3 separate regions of the Homo sapiens genome follow, and all the other regions are linked to region 3. The links come from fine-mapping of genetic effects on gene expression. A gene starts in region 3. Each other region holds a variant in brackets. All regions are shown on one strand. Distances are between the middles of the regions.

Region 1 (5,636 bases), 75 kb before region 3:
AATGCAAACAATCCCAGTGACTGAAAATAAACCAACAATGTATTTGGAAAAATTAGTATGATACACAATTTAGGATAAAATGTTTGGGAAGAAATAAGCAAAAGTTGAGGATATGTTGCTGTCATTTGTGATGTTGGCATGAATATCATGGTGGGTCTCATTTTGAGTCCCTTTAAAAGCCACTTTGTTATTTTTATGCTTCTGATACTTAGATTCCCAGAGAAATAGTCATCTACTGTATTTTAGAAAGTAGAGTGGAAATTTATCTTAAACTACAGAGGAGAAAAAGGTCAAACTTCAGTATTTTGAGTTAAATGTACACATTCATTCAGTAAATGTGTTTGGATAACTGTTGCGAAGGCTCTGATGATGTGATATGAACAGGACAGAAATGGTCTCTGTCCATGCAGAACTTACCGTTCACTGGTGAGGGGGCCGTGGGTTGAAGGGGGTCTCCAAAAGGGTATGTCCAGGCTCTAACACCCAGTCATGTGAATGGGCCCTTATTTAGAAATAGGGTCTTTGCAGATGTAATTAAGGATCTCGAGGGGAGATCAGCTGGATTTAGGGTGGGCCGGAAATCCACTGACTGTTGTCCTAAGAGAAGGGGACACAAACACAGAGACCCAGAGACCGCGGTCATGTGAAGACGGAGGCAGAGACTGCACGGAGGGGTCCTGGCTGCCCTGGATGATCAGAGAGATGTGGAGGGATTCTCCCTCAGGGCCCTGCCTGTTGCAGGTGGTTAATCAGGCACCAGCCGGGCAGCAGAGGGCTCCCCTGCCACCCACCAGGAATGTCAGGGGATCATCGGGTGAGAGTTCAGCAGTTATCCCACCGCCTATCTAAAAACAATCATTGATCACAGGCTCCAGGGAGAGGTGATTCCCCAAACAGATAAAAAGTCTCGAGATGTGTAATCGGCTTCCAACAAAGTCTCAGAAATGGGGCGAGTAGGCTCGGGGATGGGCATTAAGAGACAAAACGGAGGAGTACGGCCTTTGAGGGCACTCCACTGGAAAAGGGAAGAAAGTCTCAGGGAGGGACACCCACCACTTCCTAAACTCAGGGCTCGGTGTTGGCCTCCCGGGGCTGAGGAGGGCACCGCGTGTGCAGGCGGCCCACCCTGAGGGAAAAAGCACGGAAGAGGAACGGGACCCCGGAAGGATGCCAATGTTTCCAGCCCCAAATCCAAAGGTCAAAGGCTGCACTCGTCCTTCCAGGGGTCCGCTTGGGTCTCTTCCAGTTGTTCTTCCCTTTGTTTCCTGCTCCAGAGCTTTTTAATAAACTTCCACCGCTGCTCTGAAATTTGCCTTGGTCTCTTTTTCTGCCGTATGCCCCTCTGTTGAATCCTTTCTTCTGAGGAGGCAAGAATTGAGGTTTTTGCCGACTTGCCAGTAACTCGGATATTTGCCACCCCTAACATTCCCACACCTGTGGCTCAGACTTCTGGCCCCCAGAACTGAGAAACGACACATTTCTGCTGTTTCAGGCCACCCAGTCTTGGTACCTTGCTACATAGTTGTAGGAAACCAACACAAGGGGGTAAAAAAGGGCCAGACATGTTGTTACAAGTGCATGTCCTGAGGAGAAGCACGCTGGTGCCTGTGGCGTCCTCACCGCAGAGCGACCTGCAATGAGTCCGCCGCTGCCCAGGTCTCCTCCCGTGTCCTGGATCAACACAAATTAGGAAAATGAAATGAGTGGTTACACAGCAACTGTGTTTGGTAGAAAGACATTTCAGGAACACGGGATCCTTGGCCGGAAGAGAGTTGGGAGCCGTGCACCAGATGTTCTGAGAGCCCCTCCAGCCGTGAGGACGGAGCCCACCAGATGTTCTGAGAGCCCCTCCAGCCGTGAGGACGGAGCCCACCAGATGTTCTGAGAGCCCCTCCAGCCGTGAGGACGGAGCCCACCAGATGTTCTGAGAGCCCCTCCAGCCGTGAGGACGGAGCCCCCAGGCCTCAGGGGGCGAAACGTGAGGCCCTGAAGCAAGAGCTGGGGAGTGGGGCCGGCCACGGGTTCATCTTGAGCCCAGCCCTGCTGACAGCTTCTGAGTAAGAACGGGAGATGGGGCCTCCTGTTCTGCGTGGCCTCTCAGAAAGTCCGAGAAGGATCTCAGCACAGGAGAAGCTTCATCCCTTGGTGTCCTTGGGGCTGTCACTCATGACCTGCCACCCCAGGGTTGGATAGGGTGGGTGGAGATGGGAGG[T/G]GATGACCTCGGGGCCCTCCAGGGAGGGGAAGGCAGGAGGGGTCAGCCCAACCACTGCCAGGAGGGGAAGCCTCAGGACCGCCCTGTGAGGCGGGAGGGCCTTCACCAGACTGACTCTGCCCTTCCCACTGAGGGGCTCAGATCAGCTTCATGAGTGGCAGTGGACAGCTGAGCTACTGAGTTCTAGAAGGCACCGGGCATTGGTGGGGCAGAGCCTCACGTGGACCCACGTGGGGAAAGAAGCAGAGGCTCCGTCACGGGGAGTTGTCGTGACCTTGAACTTGGCATCATCTTTGAAGAAGCTGAAGGGAAAGAAGGAATGACAGGTACGAGAGGGGGTCAAAGTGTTTTGTGCGTGTTTGAATTGGAAACACGTGCCTGGGTTCCATGTTGGGCAGAGCCTCTTGGACATGGTTTTCTCATTTGCAAAATGGAGACAGGGACACTTCTTCCTCTGCTTTATCACGCAGTCCTGGGTCAGGGCCACTCTGGGCCTGGTGGAGTGTGGTGCAGGTGCCGTGGCAGGGGACAGCTGTGGTTGGTGGAGTGTGGTGCAGGCACCATGGCAGGGGACAGCTGTGGTTGGTGGAGTGTGGTGCAGGCGCCGTGGCAGGAGACAGCAGTGGTTGGGGTAGTGCTGTGCACATGCCGTGGCAGGGGACAGCTGTGGTTGGTGGAGTGTGGTGCAGACACAGTGGCAGGGGACAGCCGTGGCTGCACCTGTGTCTTCGCAGGACAGGTCCCTGTGAGTGGGGCACTCATCTCCCGCCCATCAGGGCCCTGGGCTTCGGGGCCTGGGGCCCCGAGAAGATGGGCTGTTTTTATTTCTGTAGCTTCGGGTGGAGGCTGCCTAGTCTACCCAGGCCACTCGGCTTCCTTCTCTGGGTTTTCCATGAGGCAGAGGGGATTTCCTATCAGGAACCACCGTGGTATCTGTCAGGGCCTGTGGGGAGGGATGTTGGAAACAGAGCCCCTTATCTCTCCCAAAACACAACCCTGGTGCCTTGCTGTGGGCGGGCGCTGGAAAATAAAAAGTCTTTTTAAGCAGGTACTTTTAGACCAGAGGATTGTATTTGTGGGTGTGTTGTAATTATCACGGGGAAGTAGCTAAGGCATCTGGGGAGGAGAGGGGAGAAAGAAACAGAAGAATAGTGAAAATAGTAGCTTTGAAATGGACCACAGAGATCTCCAAGGGTTTGCCAGAATTTTGCTATGTGCCACTGATGGTGTCTGAGGGATTTCAGGGCTTGTGAGGGAAACAGAAAAGGAGACAGCAGACCCTTCTCAGAGCCAGAGAGGCCCAGGCAGCGCTTACTGACATTATTTTGTTTTCCGTATATACTTATTATCATTTCCTTCTATATAAAGCAAAGGAAGCTGGTTTTCCATTTAGAATAATCACATAAAGTGTTCATTTAAATTACGTTCACTAAAGACAGAAACTGTAGATTTGAAACTATTGAGTAGATAATGAATGAAAAAGTGCAAAACTGTGGCAGTGGCACAAAATTAGTGGGCCTGTGGGAACGCGATGTAATCCCAGCCTCTCATGTTCCTGGAGAAGAGGCCAAGACCACGGCGGGGGGCTCAGCCAGGGGCCTCCAGGAGAGAAGGACGCAGTGCAGCCAGGGTGTGAGGGGGCTGGAGGAGACGGACAGAGACATAGGCCTCAGAGGAGAATCGCGAGGGTACAGAAAGGGACCTTAACCGACCCAGACGCTCTCATGGATGGCTCTTGCCCAGCTCCAGGGGAGCCGAGGCCATAGACAGTTGCAGGTGGAGGGAGAGAGGCCCTCGGCGGCCTAGCTCTGGTCCTGCAGGCCAGGCGGCCCCCCTGCCCTGGCTCCTCAACACCTCCTGGTGAGGAGGCTCCCCTGGGAGAGGACACAGCACCGCTTACCTCCCACCCCTTGATCAAGTCCCGGGGACAGCCCCCAACCCATGCCAGAGGCAAAAACCTGGCCCCAGCCACAAAACGGACTTTCTGAAGATACAGCTTCCAAATCTTGTGATTCATTTTGCTAGAGGTTTTCAAAAATTCTTTGAGGCCTCAAAACTGCTTTTGCTTATCAAGAAAAGAGCGGGGGCCATGTTTTGTCCATGACCCATAGATTTCCAGCCTACCCAAAGGGAGGCAGAGGAGCAGGGAGACTAGAAGAGGTGGGTGCCGTCTGTCCTGAGGTAAGGAAAGAAGAGAGAGCACTCAGTGGCCTTGTGGTCTAGGACAGCTGGAGAACGGAGATAAACTTAAACAAGTCCAGGAGGAATTCAGGGTAGATGCCCAGGAAGGTCATGTGGTAAACCTGCGTGGGCTCTGCAGGGGCTTGGACTAAGTCACTTCTGGAAGCCCCTTTATGCCCCAGAAGTCTCTCTAGACAGAAGTCTCATGTGGGGGTGCAGGAAGGCAAGTGATTTTCCCAAGGCTGGTCCTTTCTCTCTGCATCTTACTGCCCGGGTATGCTTCCTGCATACAGAGGCCAGGAGCGTAGCGGCTGAGAGGTGACTCTGGCTCTGGTGGAGCCCTCTCTGCAGAGACTGCAGCAAGGACTGGCCCCCAGGGCGGGGCGGCGGAGGCCCTGCCCAGGCCCAGGGCAGGGGGTAGCTGAGTTTAGGGGTCCCCTGGGGACCACCAGGTGATACCTGCAGAAGATCACAGAGCCTCACAGGTTGGGACTTGAACCTGGGACTTTGGTGAGGTGCACGAGCTCCCCAGAGGGGTCCAAAGGACAGATGGACAAGGGAGCAATGACTGTCCTTAGAGACTAAGGATCCTCAGATGGCAGGACTCGCTCACTGGACAGTTTTCCAGGCCTGTGCTTAGCTGAGTAAATTAACACGTCTAAGGACAGAGCGTCTCTTTGTCAATGGGGCACGTGGATGAGGGGGTACCTGAGATACGGACGTGGGAGAGGGAGAGCCTGCAGGCAGCCGCGCACGCCAGTGTGCAGGGAGATGGCATCTTGGCTTAAATATTTCAGTCCCAGCAGCTGATACCTTCTCTCATGGTGTTAGCTGAGCAGCTGAGAAACTTTTCTTAAATCCGTGTAAATTCCTTTCATTTTGGTTATGCTATTTACCATTTCCATGGACTTCAAACATTTCAGCAGTGAAACACTTAAAAAAAATCAGGTCACATGAGAAGGACCCAGAGAGAAGTGGTTATGGGTTAGTATAAATTCATTTTGCTAGAGGTTTTCAAAAATTCTGAGTATGAATTTATTCCTAAATTCAGATCTGGAACACGGACTTAAGATGAGCAGCCTCCCGGCCTTTCCTGGGAGAACTGCTCAGCACAGTTAAGTCAGTTAATCCCCATGACTTCACCCCGTGGGTGTCGGAGCTGGATCACAGCCGCTCTGAGCAGAGCACTGGGGTTGCAGCTTCTGACTGGGGGCTGATATTTGAAGCCCCCATTTGCTATCTC
Region 2 (5,295 bases), 110 kb after region 3:
TGCCAACCTGAGGCTCTGCAACAGGAGAAGGAAGCTGGGGAATTAGGTGCTGAATGCCAACTCAACATACAAAACTCAGTTGCATTTCCATACACCAATAACAAATTGGTTGAAAAAGAAGCAATATAATATTCCATGGTGTATATATAACACATTTTCTTTATGCATTCATCTGTTCATCAACACTCAGGTTGGTTCCATATCTTGGCTGCTGTGGAGTGCAGATATCTCTCTGACATACTGATTTCATTTTCTCTGGATACATACCCAGTAGTGGGATTGCTGGATCAAGTGGTAGTTTTATTTTTAGCTTTTTGAGGAACCTCCAACTATTCTTCATAATGGCCATTATTCCTGACTGCTCTTTTGAATGCTGAGTACCTCCTCTTTTCCTGCAGTGCATGCATGTAGAGAACCCAAGGCTGGGAGAGGAGAAAACTTGGGGTGCTGATAGCAGCAAGCTTTTCCGTATTAAAGGGAGCTGTGTTCTCTGAAGTTGGAGTGCCTTCAGCTGTGGCTTATCTCCCTTCAGCAAGCACAGGTCCCATGACATAGATTCTGAGGAAGACCTTGGTGAAGAATGTGGACTCCTAGCTCAGACCAAACTCTGCAACCTTAGCAAAGCTGGATATTCAATCTGTTGCATTCTTCTGATCATGTGTTACAATCTACAAATGGCAGAGCCATTGGCATTCAAACACCTGATGTTTTTCCCTGGTGTAATCCATGCCCCAGAGAGATAGGAAACCCTTCCTTCGTCTTCTTGGTCACAGTTTGGGAAGGTGTTTACCCCTGGGACCAGAGGCTCAAAATTCAGCAAAAAGTACTGATATGGTTTGGATATTTGTGCACTCCAAATCCCATGCAGAAATGTAATCCCCAGTGCTGAAGGCAGGGCCTGGTGGGAGGTGATTGGATCATGGACTGGATCACTCACGAATGGTTCAGCACCATCCCCTTGTGATGAGTTCATTCTCGCTGTGAGTTTCTGGAGATCCGGTTGTGTAAAGTGTGGCATTGTCCCCCCTTGCTCTCTCTTGCTCCTACTCCTGTGGTGTGAGACACGGGCTCCCCCCTTACCTTCCGCTGTCACTGTAAGCTCCCTGTGGCCCTCCCCAGAAGCAGATGCCAGCACCATGCTTCATGTCCAGCCTGCAGACCATGGGCCAATTGAACCCCTTTTCTTTATCAATTACCCAGTCTCGGGTATTCTTTCATCATGATGCAATTGCCCTAGTACCATCACTCCCACGTCCTAGTTTCAAGGAAGGCTGTTGTTTTAGTCCCAGCCCAAGGGAACATGTGAAGATATAGCCTCACAAAATTGAATGTGGAACTCTTGGACTTATTCTTACATGCCTGATTTAAAAAAAAATACTAGGGGCCGGGCGCGGTGGCTCACGCCTGTAATCCCAGCACCTTGGGAGGCTGAGGTGGGCGGATCATGAGATCAGGAGATCGAGACCATCCTGGCTAACACAGTGAAACCCCGTCTTTACTAAAAATACAAAAAAATTAGCCGGGTGTGGTGGCGGGCGCCTGTAGTCCCACCCAGCTACTCGGGAGGCTGAGGCAGGAGAATGGCGTGAACCCAGGAGGCGGAGCTTGCAGTGAGCCGAGATCGCGCCACTGCACTCCAGCCTGGGCGACAGAGCGAGACTCTGTCTCAAACAAACAAACAAACAAACAAACAAAACCTAGGAACAGTTGCACATAAAAGATACTCAGTAAATATTTCTGGAACTGAATTTCAGGTAGGCTATTTAGCCCCACCTATTAATCCTAACCTCTGGCAAAGGTGGCTTTAATCTTGTGAATGCTTAAGAAGCCTTAATGAGATTTAAGAAATTTTCCCAGGAACAAATAAGTTTTTCGTGTTATCCCCCTCAGTGAACACTGCGACACTTACATAACCCAGCATTCCTGCCCCATCAGCCTGAACTACAGAAGAAGGCGGTATTTCATTAACATCCCGTTGAGGATGCGGGGCCAGGGTCAGCCTGATTGACTGACACTCCTGTCTGCTCAGTGCCCCTCCTCCTCCCTCTCCTGCTCTGCTGTAGCCCAGGAGAGCGGCCTCTTCTGCCCTGGGTGCTGCCCTCTCTGCCTGCTGCCTTCCAGCTGGACTTGGCCACTGTGAGGCGCTGCTGAGAGCAGAAAGGGAAGCTGGAGTCCAGGTGCCTTTCTTCCCTTCTCTAGGGGACACAGCAGCAGCTTCCATCCCTCCAGTCGTCCTGGCTGCCTCCCTCAGGCCCTCCATGGCTGCTGCTTCTTCCAGGGACCCCGGGCTCTGCCTCCAGCACTGCTACCTCTGTTTCTCTAGCCTAGGAGGGTAGCGACTTCCTGTGTTTAAAAGCCTCTGGGTTGCTTTATTGTTTCCTGACTGGCTTCTTT[G/C]TAGATACTCCAACCGTCTGATTACACATCCTGTTTAAATAAGCAGCATGGATTTTTATATCCTGGTTCATGACTGATGCTGTTACCTCAAGATGCCCCTGGTGTTCTGAACCTCCTCAGGGCTGCCACCCTGCACCTGTCCACAAGCGGCCACGCGTGAACTCCCCCTGTGGCCACCATGCTGGCCTCCTGTGCTGCTGTGTTCTCTGACTAGAGCATTTGTCACTCAGCTGGGCATAGCTGTACTCTGCTGAGGAAGGCCCTGCTGTTAGTCCCAGCCCTGAGGGGAGGGATGACGAATGCTTTGCTGCTCTGTTTGAGTGCAACATGGGCCTCTCAATTTCCCACTGCAAAAAACAGTGTTGGACGCAATCTTTCATAAGGATTTAGAGATAGTTTGCAGATCACAGAAAATAAGAACAGAGCACAGAAAAACTTAAAAAAAAAAAAAACCCCACTGTGCCTATGCTTAGAACTCAATTTCATTCATTCCGCAAATATTTATTGAGCACTGACCACATACTAGGGAGCTTTTCTAGGTGTGGTGATTAGTGTTGGAGAAATCAGTCAATAAATATGAAAACATACCACAAAATAAGTGAATAATTCAGGCAATTGCTCTGGTCACAATTGTTCTGAAGGAACTAAAACTGAGGAGTAAGATGGAGAGACACAGTGGGGACTGGGGAGCTACTTTGATTAGAATGACACAGGGACAAAGACATCACCAAGAAGGTGAGACTGAAGCCAGAAACCAATGATGAGACAGAGGGGGTGATCGAGGCTCTGGAAAACCTCTGCACAGGTAGGTACGAGTCTCTATGTGATGCCCACATTTTCCTAGAGAAGAACTTGACAAGGACATGTCCATCTTGTTGCAGGGGCAGGGAGTGAGTCTCAGGAGATCTCAATTGAGTCTGTACCTTTGCTTGGGATGCAGGACCTGGGAGAGGTAGCCCAGAGCAGCATGAAGGCCTTGGCTGGGGTGGGGCAGGCCTGGGAGTGAGGGGCAGTGAGCAGCCCCAGAACACTATGACCCTGCTGCTATGGCCTCCCTTTGCCCTGTGCAATGAATGGAATCTTTACATCCCCACCAAAGTCGTATATGAAGCCTTAACCCCCAAGGTGATGCTATTTGGTGGTGGGTCCTGTGGAGGTGATTAGGTCGTGAGGGTGGAACCCTCATGAATGGGATTAGAGCCCCTCTTAGTCCATTTATTGTTGCTATAAAGGAGGACTTGAAGCTGGGTAATTTATAGAGAAAAGAAGTTTATTCAGCTCACAGTTCTGCTGGCTGGAAGTTTCAGGACTGGGCTTCTGGTGAGGGCCTCAGGCTGCTTCCAAGTGTGGAAGAAGGTGAAGGGGAGCTGGTGTGTGCGGAGATCGTGTGGTGAGACAGGAAGCAGGAAGGAGGGGAGGGGCCAGGTTCTTTTTAACAACTAGCTCTCATGGGAACTAATAGAGTAAGACCTTACCCCCCTCCCCTGGGAGGGCATTCATCTCTTCATGAGGCGTCTACCCCATGGCCCCCAAGCCTCCCATTAGACTCCATCTCCAACAATGGGGATCAAACTTGAACATGGGATTTGGAAGGGACAAATGTCCAAACTATACCAGTGCTTCTGATAAAATAGCCCCCAGAGAGATTGCGTGCCTGTTTCGCCACATGAGGACAGTGAGAGGACAGCTGTCTGTGACACGGGATGCAGGCCCCCGCCAGACCCTGAATCTGCCAGCACCTTGATCTTGGACTTTTAGCTTTCAGATCTGTGAGCTATCTATGTCTTTTGTTTATAACCCTCCCAGTGTACAGTACTTTGTCACAGCAGTCTTAACGAACCAGACTCCCGGTCAGAAGGTGTGGTCTTAACCAGACTTTTCAGAAGGCATTTTGAGAACTCTGAAAGCTGATCTTTTTGGCTCCCTACTTATGTGGGGGTGGTAAAAGAGGGGTAAGGTGTGTTTCCCCAGAGAGTCGGGCAGCATTTCTCTTTGTTGCTTGACAATGGATTCCCATTTATTCAGAGAGGATTATATGGGTGTGTCTTAGTCTGTTTCCTGTTGTGTAACAGAATAGCCGAGACTGAGTGACTCATAAAAAACAGAAAGTTGTTTGGCTCAGTCTTGGAGTCTTGAAAGTCCCAGATCACAGGCCCCACATCTGGTGAGGACATTTGTGCTGTGTCATCCCATGGCAGAAGGCAGGGGGCACGAGCGCAGGGGTAAGAGGATGAGAGACAAGAGAGGGCTGAAATGACTTTTGCAATAAACCCACTCTCACGATAATGGACCCGTTTTCGCAATAATAAGGTCAGTGCTTCATGACAGCAGGGCCGTTATGACCTAGTGACCTCTTAGAGGGCACGTCTTTACACTGTTGCACTGGGGATTATACTTTCAACACATGGACTTTGGGGGACACATTCAAACCACAGCAAGGTATTTGGCATTTTATCGCCATGCAATGTTAACATTTCTCTCATAACCCTGGGTTAGCCTTTCCTCGTGAATTGCAGCATCCTTGCTGAACTCTTGTTCTGTATGGTTAAATCTCCTATCAGAGTTTTGGGGCTGTATCCAACTCTTTGTAGTTTTGCTGTAAATAATGACTTTTCTTTCTGTCCAGCAAAATGTTTTAAAACAAGATGATACTTGATATGGAATGGCTCAAACATCCTTTATTCCTCTGATAAATAACTCACTTGGTGTGAATAATTCAGGCAATTGCTCTGATCACAATTGTTCTGAAGAAACTAAAACTGAGGAGTGAGATGGAGAGACACAGTAGGGACTGGGGAGCTACTTCAATGAGAGTGACACAGGGACAAAGACATCACCAAGAAGGTGGGAAGAAATTCTTTATCCCCTCATCATCCTATCTGGTGGTCCCCACTAGAGAAA
Region 3 (5,636 bases):
CAGGTGCCTGCCACCACACCCGGCTAATTTTTTGTATTTTTAGTAGAGATGGGGTTTCACCACATTGGCCAGGCTGGTCTTGAACTCCTGACCTCAGGTGATCTGCCCACCTTGGCCTCCCAAAGTGCTGCGATTACAGGCATGAGCCACTGTGCCTGGCCAAGAAAGGAACTTTGAACAAGGACATCGTAACTATAAATACCACACTTTTATCACTCTGCCATTTTTTCACCCTCAGAACCTAAGGGTGGCCACCAAGTATGTCAGAGTCAGTATTGTGTGTGTGATTTATTTTAAGGAATAAGTTAGTGTGATTGTGGGGCTGTAAAGTCTGGAATCAGTAGGGCAGGCTGGCAGACTGGCAGGCTGGAAACTCCTGAGTAACAGCTAAAGCTGAAACTAAAGGTGCCATCCTTAGGAGAAATTTCTTCCTCAGAGAAATCTCCATTTTACTCTTATGGTCTTTCAACTGATTGGATGAGGCCCACTCACATTATTGAGGATGATGTCCTTTACTTAAAGTCAAAGTTTACTGGAGATGTTCACCACACCTCCACAATGCCTGCACAGCAATACCCAGACTAGTGTTAGATTGGATAACTGGGTGCCACAGCCTAGCCAAGTTGACACAAAAACTATCACCCCAGAAGGCCTCTTCAGACGTGAAATTCCAATTATTATCACTTGAGGAAACTTTTTTCTTTAAGACTTAGTCTTTCAAAGAAATAAGGAATTACTAAAAGATAAGATGCATTTCTTAAATTATACTACAAAAGAGATTTTTCTAGTTTCTTTCTAATTCCTACGTAAATCTAAGTTAATCATAGCTCCATGTCAGACTGACAATTTTTAAAAGTTAATGAAAGATACTGAGTACATCAGTGGACTAGAAATGAGATACTCACATTATCTGATTTTTCCCTCATCTTGTTTCAAACTGAAAATATCTGGGACCAGTGGGAGAAAATTTGATACAGCAACAAAATAAATATCATTCTGATTTTATAAAATGGAACTGGCTTAATTTTTCTTTTCATTATATGGAACTACCAGGATGCTAAACATTTGGGGAGTTATTGACAGAGACAGATAGGATTGACTTTATGAAGATCAAAATGAGAGAAAGTATAATTTATAATAAGTTCAGGAGAAAATTGCTGAAGAACACTATGGTTTCTTCATTTTCTCAAAGTTGTAAGGAAGAATTGGTAGAAACCAAGATTCTTGAGTAACAGAAATTTTGTTTTGATTACTGAATAATAAAATTGTTACTATGCTAACAAAACATGTCATTAATTCAAAAGAAGATCAGGAAGAAAAGAGAACTTAGAAAATGGAGACAAACAGAAAGCACAAAATAAAATAGTACTCTATATCTAAACCCAACTATATTAGTTATTATATTAAATGTAATGAGCTGAATTCTCCAATTCAAATACAAAAATAGAAAAAAAATTCAGTTATATCATGCATACAAAGAACACATCCAAAATATGAGAATATGGAAAGGTTTTAAGTTTCTAAGAATGTAAAACGATGGGAAAATACATCATTCAAATGTGAACCAAAAAACTGTATTAAAGTAGTAATATTAATATTTGATCATAAAAACTTTAAGGTAGGCCAAGGCGGGCAGATCACGAGGTCAGGAGATCAAGACCAGCCTGGCCAACATGGTGAAACCCTGTCTCTATCAAAAATACAAAAAAATTAGCTAGGAATAGTGGCACACACCTGTAATCCCAGCTACTTGAGAGGCTGAGGCAGAAGAATCGCTTGAACCTGGGAGGTGGAGGTTGCAGTGAGTTGAGATCGCACCATTGCACTCCAACCTGGACGACAGAGCAAGACTGCATCTCAAAAAAAAAAAAAAAAAAACTTTAAGGTAAAAATAATTAATGTATATAAGGAGGGTAATTTAAAAATAAAAAATTGTTAAAGTTTTTGAAAATATAATAATTTAAAATTTATGTGCTCTTCATAACATGGCCTCAAAATGTATAAAGGAAAAATTGACAGAAAAAGAAATAATGGGTAAATTCACAATTATAATGAAAACTTTTAATACATCTTTTGAAATAATTGATACGTAAAATTTGGACTACACAATAAATCCATTTGATTTAATAGATTGATTGATTGAATGATCGGTCTATCTAAAATATTGCATCCAACAAATGTAGAATGCACATTCTTTTCAACACTCATGGAATATTTTCAAAAATTGACCATATAGTAGAATATAAAGGAAGCTTTAGCAAATATATAAGGAGAGAACTCAGTTAAGATGTGTGATCTGATCTTAGTGCAATTAATAAAAAATAATAACATAAGTATATATTATGTATAATAATATAAAAGTTCAAAAGACAATAATAATAAAAACAGAAAATTCCCATATGTTTGGATGTGGTAGTGGTTGAGAGGCATGCATAGGACACAGATGTAAAAAGGACACTGTCTTGGTTTGCTGTATGTATTCAGGGATTGTTTAAATTTATTTAAGAAGATATTCACATAGTACTCATGCAATAGAAAAAGCTACTTTGCTGTTGCAGAAAATTTTACTCATACTCCTTCCTTTTCTCTGCCAATGCTAAATAAATTCTTAACCCAAAAGGGTGATTTTTAAAAGACACATGTTCTTTTCAACATAGTTATAAGTTGGACGCAGATTTGGATAAGCTCTCAGTAGTTCATCTGCAGCTGTGTACAAACTTTATCCCGGGTTGTTCAGGCCCAACACAGCTACTCTGAGACCAGATAACTAAAAAAACTAAAAAGAAGCTATACTGCTTTAAGTGAAGAAAGCTCCAGCCCTCAGGTGGAGTCATTTCCGGGCCCTGTGATAAAGCTCAGCTGGGAGGCTCCTCAGTCATTACTACAGGGCAGGAAGGGCACGTTCTCATCAGCATGGTAAGTGACTACACGCCTATGCATTGTTGTAGGAAATTTTACTAATCATATTTGGCCCTTTTCCCACAGCAAACAATTCTTAATAAAATTGTAATGCAAGAGAAGACATTTGTAAAGAAACATTTGTTTCTTTCAATGTCCAAGTAGATGAGTTGGGAGCAGATGTGGACAGGCTGTAATCTATTCCTCTGTAATGTTGCTTCTTTCAAGGTAAAGCTCAGTTGATTTGCAGTAGCTCACTGCCATTAATTGAAGCACTGAAGCAAAAACCTTTCCTTCCTTTAGTTTTCACCTTTGTTTTAGGCCCAGAGTGCTGATTTTTCTGTAGATATTCATTGCTTCACTTTTCGTTAGGCTGTTAAGAGTTTCTGAGGACTTCAGACTTAGGTAACCGTGGCTAACCTCATAAATGCCTGGCAGGGTAAAGTGCGCAGACATCTTCTTTGCCCTCCCTTGAGTTTAGTTCTTTGGGCACCACAATGAATAGAATAACTTACAATAATTCTGTTTTGGGATGACCTTTTCAGATCCATTTGCCCTTTATTTTTTTCTGTGCCAGTTTTTCAGTATCTTTGAATTTTTAATTCTTCAATGGAAGCAACATTTCGAACTGCTTCTTGATCTTTGATTTCTCACCCCATTGGTCTCTCTGTCCAACATTTAAAAAATTTTAAATTGTTTTGCTTTTAAAAATTATGCCTTTCAACATGAGAGAGACTTGTGATAATAGCATGTTCTGTATCTTATCACTGTCAACATTCTGGGTGTGATTTTGTATTATGGTCTTGCAAGATGTTTCCACTGCGGGAAATGGGTAACGGATGCAAGGGATCTTCCTATGTTATTTCTCACAGCTGCATATCAATCTACAAAGACCTCAAAATTGAAAGTTTAACTGAGAGTTATGCTTTTCTAGTAATTCAAATAATCCTTATAGCAGCGTTTAATAATGTGCTATGACTTATCAGTGTTGACGTTCAGTGGACATTTTATAGTCTTCTACTTTATAGTGTGACTAATATTTTCATAGAGAATTTGGAAAAAAAGGGAGAGGCTAAGAGAAGAATAAGGCAAAGATAGTCTTCTACACCCTTGGACAGAGTTATGTTATAAGCTAAGCTCCTTCAAAGACGAAGGATGCTTGTTAGTCCAGGCTATTCGTGCTGATTTCAAAAAGAACAGCATCACTCTGCTTTCTGAGTCACTTGAACAGACCACGTGAAGAGGAACAATCTTTTTTTTTTTTAATGTTAGTGATTATTTTTACTGTGACTATTATGAACAAATACCACATGTACACCTGAATTTTACTCGTCACTGTAACACAGGACTGGGTGGTAGCCAGTGGAGAAGACAGAGAAATCTACATGTAAACTTTACAAAGTAAGAGGTTTTAATGATGTAGAAACAATGAACGTTCACCCTCTCCTTTTAAAATGTTAACTTAAATTTAAGGAGCCAAGTTTTGATCAGATTACAGCAGCTGATGTATTTGCAGCACTTTAAGTCCGACAGAAGGGGAGAGGAATAAGATTAAGGTTATCTGAAGCCTGATAAGGGGTATTCGAAGCCTGTTTATAACAGAATATGCTGTCTTGAGAGGTGGAATATTAGTTTGTCCTAAATGAAGTGCTTTCTAAATTAGAGAGACTGATAGTTGCACAGAAAATAAACAAGATGGAAGCCCTACTAAGGTAGTGAACTTGAATTGGTCATGAAGCAGAGGGCTGTTATGCCTTGTGAATCACAGAGACAAAGTACAAAGGTTTGATGCCATTGAGCATGAACAGAGTCCAAGTCAGATTGCAGGGGTGTGGCCGACCAGAGCCCTCTCCTTACTTTCCTCTGACTAGTGGTCTGTGTAGACCAGTGGTCCTCAACTTTTTGGCACCAGGAACCAGTTTTGTGGGACACAATTTTTCCATGGAGTCGGCAGTGGGGATGGTTTCTGGATGAAACTGTTCCACCTCAGATCGTCAGGCATTAGTTAGATTCTCATAAGGAGCACACAACCTAGATCCCTTGCATGCGCAGTTCACAATAGGGTTAGTGCCCCTATGAGAATCTAATGCTGCCGCTGATCCGACAGGAGGCAGAGCTCAGTCAGTAATGCTCACTCACCTGCTGCTCACCTCCTTCTGTAAAGCCCAGTTCCTAACAGGGCACAGACTGGTACTGGTCTGTGGCCCGGGGGTTGGGGACCCCTGTGTAGACCACAGGTGAGGGATTGACAGGAGGCCTGAGGTCTTTCAGTAGTTGAATCTCAGGCTTTAGGGCAGTGTAGCCATGAACAAGGGCAGGGCTCCCCTCAGCTTATCTGGTCAAACAGCCCAAAGGGTCCTGATGATGCAGAAGACATGGGGGTCTCATTCTACAAGACCCTCTAAATAGATTTGTTTCAGCACCACAGTCAATCAAACCACACCAATATTAAGAACAGCGATTGCTATCACCTCAGATTTCTTAGAATTTAGCTTTTACTTTCCTTCTCATTTTTTTTCTTTCCTTCTCTTAAAAACGTAGATCATTGTCTGTTTAACAGAATAGTTGTTTGCCTTAAAAAAAAGATGATTTAAAGTGGGATGGGGGAATATGAAGGTGGAAGAAATAGTAAAGTTTAGACAAGAAAATAAAATCACTACCCAGATATTACTAAACTTAATATCTTGATGCATTTTCTTTTAGATTTTTATGCCTATTTTTGAACATATTGGACATCA

Alleles and levels. Alleles are on the strand shown, and positions count from the first base shown. SD is a standard deviation of normalised expression in the study named. Not every link is listed here.
For the expression in hypothalamus of the gene that starts at base 2,878 in region 3, G is the high allele of the variant in region 2 and C is the other (small effect, 0.29 SD a copy in GTEx).

What was found. PIP is the estimated chance that this variant, and not a neighbour inherited with it, causes the effect.
Region 1: its variant is fine-mapped to the expression of TUBAL3 in lung (TOPMed, PIP above 0.99).
Region 2: its variant is fine-mapped to the expression of TUBAL3 in hypothalamus (GTEx, PIP above 0.99).

What each region holds. Positions count from the first base shown.
Region 1 is chr10:5,477,275-5,482,910 of GRCh38, reverse strand. No RefSeq gene overlaps it. Among named protein-coding and RNA genes, the nearest start is that of CALML5, 19 kb to the left of the region's middle. RefSeq lists an enhancer at 2,740-2,789 and a cis regulatory region at 2,643-3,471. The variant T/G (reference allele first, on the strand shown) is at 2,213.
Region 2 is chr10:5,291,117-5,296,411 of GRCh38, reverse strand. No RefSeq gene overlaps it. Among named protein-coding and RNA genes, the nearest start is that of LINC02561, 23 kb to the right of the region's middle. RefSeq lists an enhancer at 4,026-5,225. The variant G/C (reference allele first, on the strand shown) is at 2,395.
Region 3 is chr10:5,402,070-5,407,705 of GRCh38, reverse strand. TUBAL3 (tubulin alpha like 3) reads left to right here and starts at 2,878. Exons shown (of 4, transcript NM_024803.3): 1 at 2,878-2,916. The coding sequence starts at 2,914.